Regions from separate parts of the Homo sapiens genome. Here region 1 is linked to region 2. A link means that fine-mapping ties the variant in region 2 to the plasma level of a protein whose gene starts in the linked region. Region 2 holds a variant in brackets. A gene starts in the other region. All regions are shown on their reverse strands.

Region 1 (8,801 bases), not on the chromosome of region 2:
GAAATTTTATTGCTCAGAACTTTCCCTCCCTGGGCAATGGCAAGAGCTTCAGAGACCAGTCCCTTGGAGGGGACCTGTTGAAGCCTTCTTTTTTTTTTTTTTTAAGAAATAATCTTGCTCTGTTGCCCAGGCTGGAGTGCAGTGGCACAATCATAGCTCACTGTAACCTGGCTCAAGCGATCCTCCTGAGTAGCTAGGACTATAGGCATGTCACTGCACCCAGCTAATTTTTTTTTTTTTTTTTTTTTTTTTTTTGCGACATAGTCTCGCTCTGTCACCAGGCTGGAGTGCAGTGGCACGATCTTGGCTCACTGCAACCTCTGCCTCCCGGGTTCAAGCAATTTTCCTGCCTCAGCCTCCTGAGTAGCTGGGACTACAGGCGCGTGTCACCACGCCCAGCTAATTTTTGTATTTTTAGTGGAGACAGGGTTTCACCATGTTGGCTAGGATGGTCTCAATCTCTTGACCTGGTGATCCATCCGCCTTGGCCTCCCAAAGTGCTAGGATTACAGGCGTGAGTCAACCTCACCGGGCATTTTTTTTTTGAGACGAAGTCTTGCTCTTGCTGCCCAAGCTGGAATGTGGTGGCATGATCTCGGCTCACTGCAACCTCCACCTCCTAGGTTCAAGCGATTCTCCACCTTAGCCTCCCCAGCAGCTGGGATTACAGGTGCCCATCAACACACCCGGCTAATTTTTGTATTTTTATTAGAGATGGGGTTTTGCCATGTTGGCCAGGCTGCTCTCGAACTCCTAACCTCAGGTGATCCACCCCCATTGGCCTCCCAAAATACTGGGATTACAGGCATGAGCCACCGTGCCCAGCTGAATTTCTAAATTTTTGATAGAGATCGGGTCTTTCTATGTTGCCCAAGCTGGTCTTGAACTCCTAGCCTAAAGCAGTCTTCCCACCTCGGCCTCCCAGAGTGTTTGGAATACGTGCGTAAGCCACCACATCTGCCCTGGAGCCTCTTGTTTTAGAGACCCTTCCCAGCAGCTCCTGGCATCTAGGTAGTGCAGTGACATCATGGAGTGTTCGGGAGGTGGCCAGTGCCTGAAGCCCACACCGGACCCTCTTCTGCCTTGCAGGTTGCCTGCGGACACGCTGGGCCTCTGTCCTGATGCTGCTGAGCTCCCTGGTGTCTCTCGCTGGTTCTGTCTACCTGGCCTGGATCCTGTTCTTCGTGCTCTATGATTTCTGCATTGTTTGTATCACCACCTATGCTATCAACGTGAGCCTGATGTGGCTCAGTTTCCGGAAGGTCCAAGAACCCCAGGGCAAGGCTAAGAGGCACTGAGCCCTCAACCCAAGCCAGGCTGACCTCATCTGCTTTGCTTTGGCATGTGAGCCTTGCCTAAGGGGGCATATCTGGGTCCCTAGAAGGCCCTAGATGTGGGGCTTCTAGATTACCCCCTCCTCCTGCCATACCCGCACATGACAATGGACCAAATGTGCCACACGCTCGCTCTTTTTTACACCCAGTGCCTCTGACTCTGTCCCCATGGGCTGGTCTCCAAAGCTCTTTCCATTGCCCAGGGAGGGAAGGTTCTGAGCAATAAAGTTTCTTAGATCAATCAGCCAAGTCTGAACCATGTGTCTGCCATGGACTGTGGTGCTGGGCCTCCCTCGGTGTTGCCTTCTCTGGAGCTGGGAAGGGTGAGTCAGAGGGAGAGTGGAGGGCCTGCTGGGAAGGGTGGTTATGGGTAGTCTCATCTCCAGTGTGTGGAGTCAGCAAGGCCTGGGGCACCATTGGCCCCCACCCCCAGGAAACAGGCTGGCAGCTCGCTCCTGCTGCCCACAGGAGCCAGGCCTCCTCTCCTGGGAAGGCTGAGCACACACCTGGAAGGGCAGGCTGCCCTTCTGGTTCTGTAAATGCTTGCTGGGAAGTTCTTCCTTGAGTTTAACTTTAACCCCTCCAGTTGCCTTATCGACCATTCCAAGCCAGTATTGGTAGCCTTGGAGGGTCAGGGCCAGGTTGTGAAGGTTTTTGTTTTGCCTATTATGCCCTGACCACTTACCTACATGCCAAGCACTGTTTAAGAACTTGTGTTGGCAGGGTGCAGTGGCTCACACCTGTAATCCCTGTACTTTGGGAGGCCAAGGCAGGAGGATCACTTGAGGCCAGGAGTTCCAGACCAGCCTGGGCAAAATAGTGAGACCCCTGTCTCTACAAAAAAAAAAAAAAAAAAAAATTAGCCAGGCATGGTGGTGTATGTACCTATAGTCCCAACTAATCGGGAAGCTGGCGGGAAGACTGCTTGAGCCCAGAAGGTTGAGGCTGCAGTGAGCCATGATCACTGCACTCCAGCCTGAGCAACAGAGCAAGACCGTCTCCAAAAAAAAACAAAAAACAAAAAAAAACTTGTGTTAACGTGTTAAACTCGTTTAATCTTTACAGTGATTTATGAGGTGGGTACTATTATTATCCCTATCTTGATGATAGGGACAGAGTGGCTAATTAGTATGCCTGAGATCACACAGCTACTGCAGGAGGCTCTCAGGATTTGAATCCACCTGGTCCATCTGGCTCCAGCATCTATATGCTTTTTTTTTTGTTGGTTTGTTTTTGAGACGGACTTTCGCTCTTGTTGTCCAGGCTGGAGTGCAATGGCACAATTTCGGCTCACCACAACCTCCACCTCCCAGGTTCAAGTGATTCTCCTGCCTCAGCCTCCCGAGTAGCTGGGATTACAGGCATGCGCCACCAGGCCTGGCTAATTTTGTATTTTTAGTAGAGACAGTGTTTCTCTATGTTGGTCAGGCTGGTCTCGCACTCCCGACCTCAGGTGATCTGCCTGCTTTGGCCTCCCAAAGTGCTGGGATTACAGGCGTGAGCCACCATGCCCGGCCAGCATCTATAATATATGCTAAACCTTACCCACAGCTGCCTCTGTCTTGGGGTCAGGGTTCTTGAATGGTCTGGGCCAGCCTGAGTTAGGAGTGGGAAGAGGAAGAGGAGGCACGCGCCAAAGTGTTCTTCCCGCCTGACCGAGTCCTCTGCGCCTATGAGGAAGGTGGGCACCGCTGTCACCCTGTTTCCCAGGAAGCCAGCAGGCCCAGGGAGATACTGGGATTTGCCAAAGGCTCACAGCGAGCAAGCAGCAGTGGGTGCTGGCTCCTCACCACTCAGCCTGGCACACACTGTCTCTGAGCAGACCTGGGAGAAGGCATGTGAAACCCACCTAGCCCTGGCTGGAAGAGAAGTGGGGGAGTGGAAATGAAAAGTGGGGACTGGGAGGAGCTGCCCACGTGCCCTCCATGGTTCCAGGATGGCACTTTCATGCTGGGAGTGAGCTTGCCCTGTGCCAGGCTGTCATTGAGACGTTTTCCATTCAACAACTGTTTCTCAGACAAGGCACAGGCAGGTTAGCTCTCCCAGGCCACTCAAGTAGTAAGGAAACAGATTTAAACCCAGACAATTTGGCTCCACGGCTAAGGCCCAGAGAGGGGTGGTGACAAGCCTAGGGTCACACAGCCACAGCCCCAGAGCTAGGAACTGCTGGCTAGGGCAAGCAGACAGCTGAATCCTAGCCAACTGGAGGTGGAGCAGAGGTGGAGCCAGGGAGACCCAGGTGGCCTCTCTCAGAGTGGAGCACAGGTGGCAGAGTGGCCCGGGGCAGCATGAAGTGGTGCTGGGGCCCAGTGCTGCTCATCGCGGGTGCCACAGTCCTCATGGAGGGTAAGCCGCCATGTGCTGGGGTATGGGTGTGGCCTGGTGGGGGCTCAGGGGCCATCTCTGCCCCAGCAGTCCCTGCTTCTTGGTGGGGGGACCGCCTGTGGGCGACAGTCCACCAGTGGGGATGTAACTCCGTAGGACTCTGTGGGGTGGTATATGTGGCCACCTGTGTCAACATGGATGAGATTTTCTCGGGCCAGCTGCAGTTTGCGTTGGCGGGGCCTGTGGTCTTGTGTGTGTGTGAGGTGCTGCCTGCGTGTGTCCTGTGCCTGCCTCCCCCTCGACTTCCACAATGACGTCAGGCAAACTCTGGGCTCCTCTGGCCTCAGTTTCCCTTTCTTTTCATCCATCCTCTGGGCAGCCTGGCTCAGCTGTCTCATGGGGTGCCTGTGTGCCTGTGAGGGGCGGTGGGCAGGGGCCCTCTCTCTGGCGGGCTCTCAGACAGTTTCTGGGAAGGTGGGGAAGACTGAGTCTCTAGACCAGGGTGAGGTAAGTCTCCATTTCTTGGGGCCCTCCCCACTTGGAAATGATGCAGGCCTCTAATCCTTCCTCTTAGGCCTCTGCTGCTAAGAGGACAATTAAGCTAATGCTCTCTACACACACAGGCCGCCTGGCTGACTCAGTGGCGGGGGCAGGAGTTGGGGGTTCTGAAGCCTGGAGGAGGGCTGGCCTACTCCCAAGCTGAACCCCAAGCCCCAGAGTGCTGAGCACAGCTGAAGGAGAATTAATTACTGAGTGTGCACACTGAATAGGTTCCAATAAAAGCTGTCTCGGCCTCATATAAATATTTTCATTCTGGGAGGGGCTGGTAAGGTAATCAGAGTCACAGGCAAGGACCCTGGGCCCGCCCCCCAGCCCATCCCCTCTCCTCCCCAAAGCTAGGCAGGCCTGGAGTCCCTGCATCTTACCTGTGTCTCTCTCTTCCCAGGTCTTCAAGCCGCTCAGCGTGGTAAGGTCTGGGGACACGGGGCCTAGGTCTTACTTGGGTCTGGGTTGGGACTGGGGTGAGGTCAGGACAGGTATCTGCTGTCAGTGTGACTAACTCCTTTCCACAGCCTGTGGACAGCGTGGCCCCGGCCCCCCCAAGCCTCAGGAGGGCAACACAGTCCCTGGCGAGTGGCCCTGGCAGGCCAGTGTGAGGAGGCAAGGAGCCCACATCTGCAGCGGCTCCCTGGTGGCAGACACCTGGGTCCTCACTGCTGCCCACTGCTTTGAAAAGTAAGTCATGGCTGGGGTCAGGCAGGGTCTCCGGCTCTGGGGAGTGGACAATTTGTCTCAAGCCCCACAAGGCTAGTCCCTGCCTCTAGAGTAATAATAAAGAACCATTTACTGAGAATCTGCCATGTACTGGGTACATATTGTCAAGTTAATTGTAACAACCACCTTTCATGGTAGAAGATTTACAAATCAGAAAACTCAGGTTGCAAGGGAATGACCTCGCTTAAAGTCACAGACTGAGGCCGGGCACAGTAGCTCACGCTTGTAATCCCAGCCCTTTGGGAGGCCACGGAGGGAGGATCGCTTGAGCCCAAGAGTTCAAGACTAGCCTGTGCAACATAGCAAGACCATGTCTCTACAAAAACTGTAAAATTAGCCAGGCATGGTGGTGCACGCCTGTAGTCCCAGCTACTCACGAGGCTGAGGTGGGAGGATCGCTTGAGCCTGGGAGGTCAAGGCTTGTAGTGAGTCATGGTCATGCCACTGCACTGCAGCCTGGGCGACAGGACGAGACCCTACCTCAAAAAGAAAAAGCCGTGGAGTGCTCTCTGCTATCTTCCACCTACCTGTGGGGTCTCCCATGGTGTCACTGTCTACCCTTGCACTCAGCAGCCTGGACCTTGTCCTTCCCCTTCCAGGGCAGCAGCAACAGAACTGAATTCCTGGTCAGTGGTCCTGGGTTCTCTGCAGCGTGAGGGACTCAGCCCTGGGGCCGAAGAGGTGGGGGTGGCTGCCCTGCAGTTGCCCAGGGCCTATAACCACTACAGCCAGGGCTCAGACCTGGCCCTGCTGCAGCTCGCCCACCCCACGACCCACACACCCCTCTGCCTGCCCCAGCCCGCCCATCGCTTCCCCTTTGGAGCCTCCTGCTGGGCCACTGGCTGGGATCAGGACACCAGTGATGGTAAGTGCTGGCCCAGACTGAAGCTCGGAGAGGCACTCTGCTTGCCCAGCGTCACAGTCTCAGCTCCCAACTGTCCTGGCTTCCAGTCTCCCTTGCTTCCCAGATCCCAGACTCTAGCCCCAGCCCCGTCTCTTTCACCAGCTCCTGGGACCCTACGCAATCTGCGCCTGCGTCTCATCAGTCGCCCCACATGTAACTGTATCTACAACCAGCTGCACCAGCGACACCTGTCCAACCCGGCCCGGCCTGGGATGCTATGTGGGGGCCCCCAGCCTGGGGTGCAGGGCCCCTGTCAGGTCTGATAGGGAGAAGAGAAGGAGCAGAAGGGGAGGGGCCTAACCCTGGGCTGGGGGTTGGACTCACAGGACTGGGGGAAAGACCTGCAATCAGAGGGTGTCTGCCATAGCTGGGCTCAGGCATCTGTCCTTGGCTTTGTTGCCTGGCTCCAGGGAGATTCCGGGGGCCCTGTGCTGTGCCTCGAGCCTGACGGACACTGGGTTCAGGCTGGCATCATCAGCTTTGCATCAAGCTGTGCCCAGGAGGACGCTCCTGTGCTGCTGACCAACACAGCTGCTCACAGTTCCTGGCTGCAGGCTCGAGTTCAGGGGGCAGCTTTCCTGGCCCAGAGCCCAGAGACCCCGGAGATGAGTGATGAGGACAGCTGTGTAGGTACGAGTGGGGCATGCTGGGAGTGGGCAGAAGCCACTGTGAAGCAAACCTCAGTTAGGACTAGAGAACTGGCATAGGCATCCACACCGCCGAGCCTAATTAGGGGGCTCTTTCACCCCCTGGGATGGGAACAGCCCTGTTAGGGCTGAGAGGCACAGGCACTTTGGAACTCTACAGGTTTGGAGTTTAGGTGAGAAGAGGAATCTCTGAGACCTGACTTGGGTTTCTGGGGAAGTGGCAGGCTTCCAGCAGGGACCCAGCGAGCCTGCACAGGGTAGGGCTCCCAGTCAGAATTCCGGCATTAAGTGACTGGCATGCAAATTGAATGCAAAGTAATTCCTGGGACGGATATTATGTCTTGATGATAAGAGATGCACTAATGAGTCAGGAATACGGGAGGCAGGCCCATCCTGGAGGGTGCAGACGGGTGGAGCAGGGGAGTGACAAGTAGGGGCATTCCCACGAGGCTGGGACAGGGGTCCCATCAGACCAACAGGGCTAAAAGCTCAGGCCCTGGCTTGCGAATCGCAAGTCTGCCACTTGCCTGTAGTTACAGAGCAAGGAAGTCTCTTAACCTCTCTGGAACTTTGGTTACCTTCAGTAATGAGGGGAACAAAATTCAATTTCAAAAGCTACTGTGAGGATTTGATGGGAAGTGGGAAGTGCTTAGCAAGAAGTCAGATGAGGCACTTATCTGTTTCAGCCTGTGGATCCTTGAGGACAGCAGGTCCCCAGGCAGGAGCACCCTCCCCATGGCCCTGGGAGGCCAGGCTGATGCACCAGGGACAGCTGGCCTGTGGCGGAGCCCTGGTGTCAGAGGAGGCGGTGCTAACTGCTGCCCACTGCTTCATTGGGTGAGTCTTGGATCCCTCTCTGCTGTGCCCCCTGCCCCTGCCGGCAGCCCTGTCACCTGGTGCCGTCCACACTGCCTCTGCACAGGCGCCAGGCCCCAGAGGAATGGAGCGTAGGGCTGGGGACCAGACCGGAGGAGTGGGGCCTGAAGCAGCTCATCCTGCATGGAGCCTACACCCACCCTGAGGGGGGCTACGACATGGCCCTCCTGCTGCTGGCCCAGCCTGTGACACTGGGAGCCAGCCTGCGGCCCCTCTGCCTGCCCTATCCTGACCACCACCTGCCTGATGGGGAGCGTGGCTGGGTTCTGGGACGGGCCCGCCCAGGAGCAGGTAGGTGGGCACAGGGCCAGGGCTGCTGTCCATCCAACCTGCAGGCCGGGGCAGCCAGCTTTCCCTTGCTCCACAGGCATCAGCTCCCTCCAGACAGTGCCCGTGACCCTCCTGGGGCCTAGGGCCTGCAGCCGGCTGCATGCAGCTCCTGGGGGTGATGGCAGCCCTATTCTGCCGGGGATGGTGTGTACCAGTGCTGTGGGTGAGCTGCCCAGCTGTGAGGTGAGCCCCAGGCCCCCACACCTTACCTAACAGGCCCCTGGCATCCCCTCACCCAATAGCTCAAGAACGGACCTTCCAGGCTTGGCCTCTGGACCCACCTCCCACCTGAAACTAAGCCTTTTTGCCAATTAGCCCCCAAACAGCCAGAGGTTCCCTAGCCTGCTCTACCGTCCTGCACAGCTGCCTATAAAAAGTCACCCAGTGTCACCTGACCCCTGACAGGGCCTGTCTGGGGCACCACTGGTGCATGAGGTGAGGGGCACATGGTTCCTGGCCGGGCTGCACAGCTTCGGAGATGCTTGCCAAGGCCCCGCCAGGCCGGCGGTCTTCACCGCGCTCCCTGCCTATGAGGACTGGGTCAGCAGTTTGGACTGGCAGGTCTACTTCGCCGAGGAACCAGAGCCCGAGGCTGAGCCTGGAAGCTGCCTGGCCAACATAAGTATGTGGCCCCGGGGCCTCCTGCCAAACCCTGCCTCTCCAGGACCCTTCTCTCTCCAGTGAGAACGTGCCGTTCTAACCCACTCCAGCTGCCTTGGGTAGGGTGGAGCAACAGGCAGACCCATTTGATTCAGATTCTGGTTCTTTGTCATCGTGTGACTTGGAGCAGGCTGCTCAACCGCTTTGAGCCTCAGTATTCTCATCTGTCATGGCGGCCAAGACAGACCCTGTTCCTTCGAGGAATGGGGAGGGAGGGAGGGACCAAAGCCGTGAGGATGAGGACAACTCCACCCTCCTTCCTTCCCCACAGGCCAACCAACCAGCTGCTGACAGGGGACCTGGCCATTCTCAGGACAAGAGAATGCAGGCAGGCAAATGGCATTACTGCCCCTGTCCTCCCCACCCTGTCATGTGTGATTCCAGGCACCAGGGCAGGCCCAGAAGCCCAGCAGCTGTGGGAAGGAACCTGCCTGGGGCCACAGGTGCCCA
Region 2 (8,959 bases):
GGGCAACACGGGGAAACCCTGTCTCTACAAAAAATACAAAAATTAGTGGGGCATGGTGGTGCATGCCTGCAGCCCCAGCTACTCCTGAGGCTGAGGTGGGAGGATCACCTGAGCCTGGGGAGGTTGAGGCTGCAGTGAGCTGTGATCGCACCACTGCACTCCAACCTGGGTGACTGGAGTGAGACCCTGTCTCAAAAAAAAAAAATAGAAGAACTTCCAGAATAGTTAAAGATAACCACTGTTGACAAATTCGGGTATATCCTAGTCTTTTTTTCTTGGCAAATAAGTCTGTAACAGGGCACTGTGGGCAGGTGTAACTGGGACATCAAAGCTGCTTGCGCAAACCATTCACTCTCTCCCTAACATCTATTTGCATCTGTTGGCAGGCTTGAGAATTCTTTTTTTTTCTTTAATTTAAAAAAATTTTTTTTTAAGAAACAGTGTCTTGCTTTGTCGCCCACACTGAGCGCAATTGTGCGATCATGGCTCACTGCAGCCTTGACCTCCCAGGCTCAAGTGATCCTCCCACCTCAGCCTCCCTAGTAGGTGGGACTACAGGGATGCACCACCATGCATGGCTAATTTTTTAGAATTTTTTGTAGAGTCACGGTCTTCCCATGTTGCCCACATGGGTCTTAAACTCCTGGGATCAAGTGATCCTTCTGCCTCGGCCTCTCAAAGTGCTTGGATTACAGGCGTGAGTCACCATGCCCAGCCACTTGAGAACTTCTTGGTGGGGAGGCCATTCTTTTCCATGTGTGGAAACTTTGGGTGCCTGTGGAGTTCATTCCTTTGGCTCTGACATTAACATGCGCATCAGAGAATTTGGCAGTGGAGAAGTTTCTCCACATGGCTTTATGGGCAGTAGTGATGGTAAAGTGAGAATCAGTAGGAAGATGAATATTGCATGGTATATGTAGGTGACAGACTTAGTGACCATTATGTGACACATCTTTTTTCAGGATACTCAGAAATATTTTGAGAGATGCTTTAAGGGGAACTAGTAAAATAGTATTTAAACCAATCCAGTCTTGTATCAGAAGACTGCAAGAAGGAAAGTATGACATTCACAAGATGGTGAAGCCTGGCATAATTAGATTTCATATAAACTTACAGAAATGGGATCACATTGTATATGTTATTTTTCACTACTTATAAAATATCAACATATATTTGTCTTACTATTTATTGAGCCAGGCATGGTGTCATGCTCCTGGAGTCCCGGCTACTTGGGAGGCTGAGGCAGAAGGATCACTTGAGCCCAGGAGTTTGAGGCTGCAGTGAGCTATGTTCATGCCACTGCACTCCAGCCTGGATGACAAAGTGAGATCCCATCTCAAAAAAAAATTATTAATTAAATAATAATTCATTGTGGGGAAGCACCAGCGTTTAAATGATTTCCTTTTACTAGAACCTTAGGTTGCTGATATATTTTTTGCTATTATAAACAACACTTGAATAAACATTCTTTGTGTGCATATGTTGGGGAGGACAAATAATTTTTTCTTCAACCTCAGAGTTCTTTGCTGAGACACCCTGTAACAAAGGATAGATTGCCGGGCACGGTGGCTCACGCCTGTAATCCTAGAATTTTGGGAGGCTGAGGTGGCCAGATCAGTTGAGGCCAGGAGTTTGAGACCAGCCTGGCCAACATGGAAACCCTGTCTCTACTAAAAATACAAAAATTAGCTGGGCGTGGTGGCACGTGCCTGTAGTCCCAGCTGCTCTGGAGGCTGAGGCACCAGAATCACTTGAACCCAGGAGGCAGAGGTTGCAGTAAGCTGCGATCACACCACTGCACTCCAGCCTGGGTGACAGGGCGAGACTCTCTAAAACAAAGAAAAAAAAACAAAAAAAAGATAGATGAACAAGGAAAAAGCAAATTTATTAATGTGTGTGGCATCACATGGGAGAAAGCTCAATGCAAAGTAACTCAAAGCAGTGGCTCAGAACTCTGGCTTATGTAGCATCTTCAACAAAGAACAATACATTTGTGGAAAAAGGGCAGAACATAGGAAAGAGATTTTAGGCTTCCAAGGATAGGAAACTGGGAAAGTAAATATTTGGGAGGAAACTAATGGAGTAAGGTTTGTTTATAGACTCCTCTGGTGCTGTCTCTGGACTATTAAGTCTGTAGGGTTGTGTATAAAGGAGAATTTGTATCCTACCTTTAGGCAGAAAAGAGGGGAATAGAGGGAGCTTTTCTTCTGTTTGCTACTTCCTAATTGCCTACAGCTCAAAAATAATTTCTTTTTTTCTTTTTTTCTTTTTTTTTTGAGACAGAGTCTCGCTTTGTCGCCCAGGCTGGAGTGCAGTGGCTCAGTCTCAACTCACTGCAACCTCCGCCACCCAGGTTCAGGCAATTCTAGTGCCTCAACCTCCCAAGTAGCTGGGATTACAGGCATGAGCCACCGTGCCTGGCTTCTCCAAAATAATTTCTATGTCAAAAAGGCATATTTTGGAGTGATACGTTCTGGTTTTCTTCACACATTTTAAGGCTATTTACATATTGCCAAATTGCATTTATTAGTAGGTTAGTTGCTGATACGTAACATCTCTGAAGCAGAGCTGCCTGTTTATTATATATATGAAACTGAAACAAGACGCAGTAAGGTAATTGTAAAGAGACTTGTTATACATTATGATTTTTATTACTTTGTGTACTGGGTGTCCCATCAAATTCCACAGATATAACAGCTTAGAGAAGTGGGAGCTAGTGCAGTGCCTAGCCTAAAGTAGAAATTTTGTGGGAACCTAGTCCATTTGGGTGATATATATGCCTTCAAGACAAGAAAGCAATAGAAATGTGCATTGTTAGGACAATGGGTGGTGGTTCCCTCCCTCCAGACTTCTTTACTTCTCCAGTAGCATTCATTAATCTACAATGTACAGCTCAAATATTTGCCTCAACAGGTAAAGCTAAAACCTGTTTTCCTAGTTGAAAATAATTTTATTGAACCTCCCCATGGGAAAACACGTGTTTATTACATGTGCGGCTTTTGTGACTCTTTAACCAGCCCCGCCTATAACCAAATATAGTCATTCCTGTGGGTAAAATGTCACTTCCTAACTCTAAAAAGAAAGGTGAAACTTTGAACATTCATTTAGGCATATTGGCAAGTTTTTCTTTCCCCCCAGTTCTTTTAGCAGTTGGTAAAAATCCTTTCTGAGAGCTAGGCTTTTAAATGGTTAAACAGTAGTTTACTGTGAGGGATAGAATTATTTTTCTTATATTCTAAATTTTCTCCAGTGAGCTTATACTTTTTTCTTAAAATAATAAAACATATTTTGTAGCTATCTTTATATTTAGATACTACTATTCAATTGGATAGTATTGTGCTACTATTCAATTGGAAAAAGTTATTTTTTAAAATTAAATATATGTTTTAGGATCGTGGGAATTTGAGGCTTCTTAAGAATTGAAATAAGCCTTGAAGAAATACGTTTTATTCTCTTCTGACTTTTTTAAATTGGTTGCTTTCGTTCATTTCTGCCTTTTATTTCTGTAGTTGTATTTTGTATATATTCCATTGTCTTATTTTTTTACTCTTCCCCTTTTCATAGGTGTTATTCCATTGTTTTAGAACAGTGTTTAATCATTGTGATATCAGAAATATCATTTATTCATTTAGTCATAGAAGCAGCTGCTAGGTAGAGTCAATGTTGTTAAAACACAGACCAAAGAGTAAATGGTGGAGAAATATATACATGTATATGTTCTTTTTTTTTTTTTTGAGAAGGAGTCTTGCTCTGTTGCCCAGGCTGGAGTGTAGTGGCACAATCTTGGCTCACTGCAACTTCCGCCTCCCAGGCTCAAGCTATTCTCCTGCCTCAGCCTCCCAAGTAGCCAGGATTACAGGAATGCACTACCACACCTGGCTAATTTTTTGTATTTTTAGTAGAGATAGGGTTTCGCCATGTTGGCCAGGCTGATCTCAAACTCCTGACCTCAAGTGATCCACCCACCTCCGCCTCCCAAAGTGCTGGGATTACAGGCGTGAGCTACCGCGCCCGGCCTGTATGTTCTTATTTATACAATCTATTTGGGCTTTAACATTTGGCACTGAATATGGTTTGGGGTGTTTTTGTTTGTTTTTTGTTTTGTTTTGAGACAGGGTCTCACTTTGTCACCCAGGCTTGAGTGCAGTGGAGCAAACAGGGCTCACTGAATCTTGACCTTCCAGGCTCAGTAATCCTCCCACTTCAGCCTCCTGAGTAGCTGGGACTACAGGAGCATACAACCATGCCCAGCTAATTTTTTTTTTCCTTTCTTTTGAGACGGAGTCTTGCTCTTGTTGCCCAAGCTGGAGTGCAATGGCATGATCTCAGCTCACTGCAACCTCCACCTCCCAGGTTCAAGCGATTCTCCTGCCTCAGCCTCCTGAGTAGCTGGGATTATAGGCGCCTGCCACCACACCCGGCTAATTTTTGTATTTTTAGTAGAGATGGGGTTTCGCCATGTTGGCCAGGCTGGTCTCGAACT[C/T]CTGACCTCGTGATCCGCCCACCTCAACCTCCCAAAGTGCTGGGATTACAGGTGTGAGCCACCATGCCCGGCCTAATTTTTGTATTTTTTGTAGAGACAGGGTTTTGCATGTTGCCCAGGCTGGTCTCGAACTCCTGAGCTCAAGCAGTCCACCTGCCTTGGCCTCCCAAAGTGCAGGGATTACAGGCATGAGCTGCCACACCTGGCCCATTTTGAGTACTTAGCATACAATTCTTAGCCTTCTGCTTCTTCCTGATAAAGTTGTAATCTGAGAAATTATCTAGTTTCAGCCTTTAATAACTAAATCTTCTCCATATTTCCCATGTCACATTTTTTTCCTATTGTCACATTGCGGCTTCCTTTTTTTTTTTTTTTTTTTTTTTTTTCTTTTTTTGAGATGGAGTTTTGCTCTGTCGCCCAGGCTGGAGTGCAATGGCGCAATCTCGGCTTACTACAACCTCCACCTCCTGGACTCAAGCAGTTCTCCTGCCTCAGCCTCCCAAGTAGCTGGGATTACAAGCGTGTACCAGCATCCCCAGCTAATTTTTGTTTTTTGTTTTTTTTGAGATGGAGTCTCACACTGTCACCAGGCTGGAGTGTAGTGGTACAATCTCAGCTCACTGCAACCTCCACCTCGCAGGTTCAAGCGATTCTCCTGCCTCAGCCTCCCGAGTAGCTGGGACTACAGGTGCACGCCACCACGCCTGGCTAATTTTTGTACTTTTAGTAGAGACAGGGTTTCACCATGTTGGCCAAAATGGTCTCGATCTCTTGACCTCATGATCCGCCTGCCATGGCCTCCCAAAGTGCTGGGATTATAGGCGTGAGCCACCACGCCTGGCCTAATTTTTGTATTTTTAGTAGAGACAGGGTTTCTGTATGTTGCCGAGGCTGGTCTTGAACTCCTGACCTCAGGTGATCCACCCACCTCAGCCTCCCAAAGTGCTGGGATTACAGGCATGAGCCATTGTGCCTGGCTGCATTGCGGCTATCTGCTGTCTTCTTTCTCGGTGCGTCTGTCTGTCCTCCAGACCTCTTAACTTTTATCCTTGGAATGCTCCAGGACTTAGCCCCTGGATTATTTCCTTTTCTAGACATTCACTCACTTGGTGATCTCATCTGGTCTCATGACTCATTACTTGTATGCTGATGACTGTCTTTTGGGCATTTCCACTGGGATGTCTAACAAGGCACCTCAAATTCAACATCTTCAGAATTTCTGCTTCTCTTGAGATCCTTCCTATAACAGTTAATGGCAGTTCTATCCTTCTGAGACTCATCCTTGGCTTCCCTTTTTCTCACACTGTCCAGTCATCTATCAGCAAGCACTATCTTGAAGATACATCCAAAATTCTACCACTTCTCACTATCCCACTGCCTCCTCCCTGTTCTAGGCCATCATCATCTCGTATGTTAATAGATTATTGCAACAGGTTCTTAACTGTCTGTATTAGTCAGTCTTCACACTGCTAATTTAAGACATACCCAAGACAGGGCAATTTACGAAAGAAAAGGGTTTATTGGACTTACAATTCCACATGTCTGGGGAGGCCTCACAATCATGGCGGAAGGTGAAAGGCATGTCTTACATGGTGGCAGTCAAGAGAAGAGAGCTTGTGCAGGGAAACTCCCCTTTTTAAAACCATGAGATCTCGTGAGACTTGTTTACTATCATGAGAAGAGCGCAGGAAAGGCCCGCCCCCCATAATTCAATCACCTCCCACCAGGTTCCTCCCATGACATATGGGAATTGTGGGAGTTACAATTCAAGATGAAATTTGGGATGGGACACAGCCAAACCATATCACTGTGTTTCTGTTTCTCGTTTTTCAAAACACAACAGATGGAGTGGTTCTGTCAAAATGAGAGTCAGATATCATCTGCATTTTGCTCAGAACTCTTCAGTGGTGTCTGGGCACAGTGGATCACACTTGTAATCCCATTTTAGGAGGCCAAAGCAGGCAGATCACTTGGGCTCAGGAGTTCAAGACCAGCATAGGCAACATGTTGAAATCCTGTCTCTACAAAAAATATAAAACTTAGCTAGGCGTGGTGGCCTGTGCCTATGCCCCAGCTACTCTGGATGCTGAGTTAGGAGATCACTTGAGCCTGGGAGGTTGAGGCTGCAGTGACTGTAATTGAGCCACTGCACTCCAACCTGGGTGACAGAGTGAGACCCTGTCCAAAAAAAAGAAAAGCCCTCTTCAGTGGTTTTCTATTTAATATGTAATAGAAGCTTATTATGACCTATAAGGCCAACATGATCTGAATCCTGTTACTCTTTTGATTTAATCTTTTTCTTTTCTTTTCTGGAGACAAAGTCTTACTCTGTTGCCCAGGCTGGAGTAAAGTGGTGCAATCATGGCTTGCTGCAACCTCAACCCCTTGGGCTCAAGCAATCCTCCCACCTCAGCCTCCTGATTAGCTGGGACCACAGGTGTGTGCCACCACACTTGGCTGATTTTGTTTGTTTTTTATTTTGTAGAGATAGGACCTCATTATGTTGCCAAGGCTGGTCTTGAACTCCTGGCCTCAAGTGATTCTCCCACCTCAGCTTCCCAAAGTGCTGGGATTACAGGCGTGAGCCACCACACCCAGCTTAATCTTTTTCTTATATCCCACCTCACTATACCACCAATCCCAGGTCACTTCACTTCAGCCACATTGGCCTCCATGAACATCCCACAGGCTCCTGAATCAGGAGTTCTCGCTGTTCCTTGTGCCTGAAATGTGCTTCTTTCGGATAATCTCACAACTGACAGCCTCACTTTCTTTACATTTTCACTCCAGAGTGCCTTCTTAGTGAGGCTTCCCTTAGCCCCCTGCTTAAAAGTCATGTATTTCATTTTTAATAGAATCCTTTAAACAAAAGAGAGGATGCTTTCCATTCAGGTTATCTTTATCTAAAAAACGCTAATCTGAAATAACACTATGGGGCACCCTCGCAGAACACAATATGAAAGTATAGGTTGAATATCCCTTATTTGAAATGCTTGGAGCCAGAAGTGTATTCAGTTTCAGATTTTTTCAGATTCATTTACCAGTTGACCATCCCTAACCTGAAAATGTGAAATGTTCCGATAAGCATTTCTTTTGAGCATGATGTCAGCTCTCAAAAAGTTTTGGATTTTGGAGGATTCTAGATTTTTAGAGTAGGAATACTCAGCCTGTAGGAGAATAACAGATCTACATTAGGGAATGATAGAGATCACCCTTGACTCAGCTTGAAAACTGGTAGCTGTGCTTAGGATAATGTAATTACTGTATAGGACCAAAAACTACAGGGTTAGAGCATACCGGTGTATTGTCCACTTTCACTGCTGTTCTGTTTTTGCTTTCCCCAGCGGAAACCTATATAAGTTTATACAAATAATCTTCTGAGGATGGGCCAGCTCTTAGAGCCTCTGTCTCTACCTTTTCATCCTCTTGGTATCCAGCTAAGTTAACAGCTTCATTGTGAATATTCCATTTGGCATTTTATTTGTGAGGCAGGGGAATTGCTTGAAACTGGGAGGCGGAGGTTGCAGTGAGCCAAGATGGTGCCACTGCACTCCAGCCTGGTGACAGAGCAAGACTCCGTCTCAAAATAATAATAATAGAAGAAGAAGAAGAAGAGGAAGAGAAGGGGAAGAAGAAGAGGAGGAGGAGGAAGAGGAGAAAGAAAAAAGAAAAAGAAACTTGAGGCTCAGGGATTATATACCTAAGAGGTGGTACAGTCAAACAGCTATGAGATGGTCTCAGTTCTTAAAAAGTTAATTAGGAGAGACGGGAAACCATTCCTTCAAACTAGAAATGCTATACTAGTCCAGAGAAGGCAGAGGAAAAAGTGGGTGGAGGAAATGGAGATTTTTATGGAAGAGGGATGTAGGTTATAGGTGAATAAATGGAGTTAGTTGTAAGAACATGCCAGACAGGGAAATAACGAGTACCCCAGGAAGACTGAATTTGCATAGTTGGCAAATGCTGCCAGACAAGTTCGCATTCAACTGTTGCATCAGATTCATTTGGAAAGCTTTTAAAAAATATTGTTGGCTCCTGATCCCACCCCGAAGCTGCTCCTGAATCAGATGGTCTTAGGCAGTGCCTTAGAATCTGTGGTGTTGATACTGTCACAGGCTATTCTGATGCATAGCCAGGCCAGGGAATCCTTGGCTAGAGAAAGAAGAGGGGCCGGGGGCGGTGGCTCATGCCTGTAATCCCATCACTTTGGGAGGCTGAGGTGAGTGGATCACCTGAGATCAGGAGTTCGAGACCAGCCTGGTCAACATGGTGAAACCCAGTCTCTACTAAAAATACAAAAAATTAGCCGGGTGTGGAGGCGAGCACCTGTAATCCCAGCTACTTGGGAGGCTGAGGCATGAGAATCACTTGAACCCGGGAGGCAGAGGTTGCAGTGAACAGAGATTGTGCCATTGCACTCCAGCCTGGCCAGCAAGAGTGAAACTCCGTCTCAAAAAAAATAAAAAAAAGAAGAGG

Alleles and levels. Alleles are on the strand shown, and positions count from the first base shown. The strength of an association depends on the size of the effect and on how common the allele is.
With allele C in place of T in region 2, the plasma level of the protein whose gene starts at base 3,489 in region 1 is lower (weak association).

Evidence for each region. PIP is the chance, under the fine-mapping model, that this variant and not a neighbour inherited with it causes the effect. Protein levels are from antibody-based Olink assays in UK Biobank. Linkage for the fine-mapping came from a reference panel and not from the study's own genotypes, which makes the PIPs less certain.
Region 1: PRSS53 starts here. The variant in region 2 is fine-mapped to the plasma level of the PRSS53 protein (UK Biobank, PIP 0.92).

The regions. Positions count from the first base shown.
Region 1 is chr16:31,083,631-31,092,431 of GRCh38, reverse strand. PRSS53 (serine protease 53) reads left to right here and starts at 3,489. Exons shown (of 11, transcript NM_001039503.3): 1 at 3,489-3,680; 2 at 4,606-4,626; 3 at 4,733-4,895; 4 at 5,534-5,799; 5 at 5,941-6,095; 6 at 6,249-6,468; 7 at 7,172-7,322; 8 at 7,408-7,652; 9 at 7,729-7,874; 10 at 8,097-8,313; 11 at 8,623-8,801. The coding sequence starts at 3,623. The coding sequence ends at 8,642. VKORC1 (vitamin K epoxide reductase complex subunit 1) reads left to right here. Exons shown (of 3, transcript NM_024006.6): 3 at 1,090-1,578. The coding sequence ends at 1,298. It overlaps ZNF646 (zinc finger protein 646), which reads right to left. Exons shown (of 3, transcript NM_014699.4): 3 at 8,236-8,801. RefSeq lists an enhancer at 3,312-3,812.
Region 2 is chr4:39,563,054-39,572,012 of GRCh38, reverse strand. The region is part of intron 3 of SMIM14 (small integral membrane protein 14); the gene reads left to right. The region is part of intron 2 of UGDH-AS1 (UGDH antisense RNA 1); the gene reads right to left. Among named protein-coding and RNA genes, the nearest start is that of UGDH-AS1, 40 kb to the right of the region's middle. The variant C/T (reference allele first, on the strand shown) is at 4,484.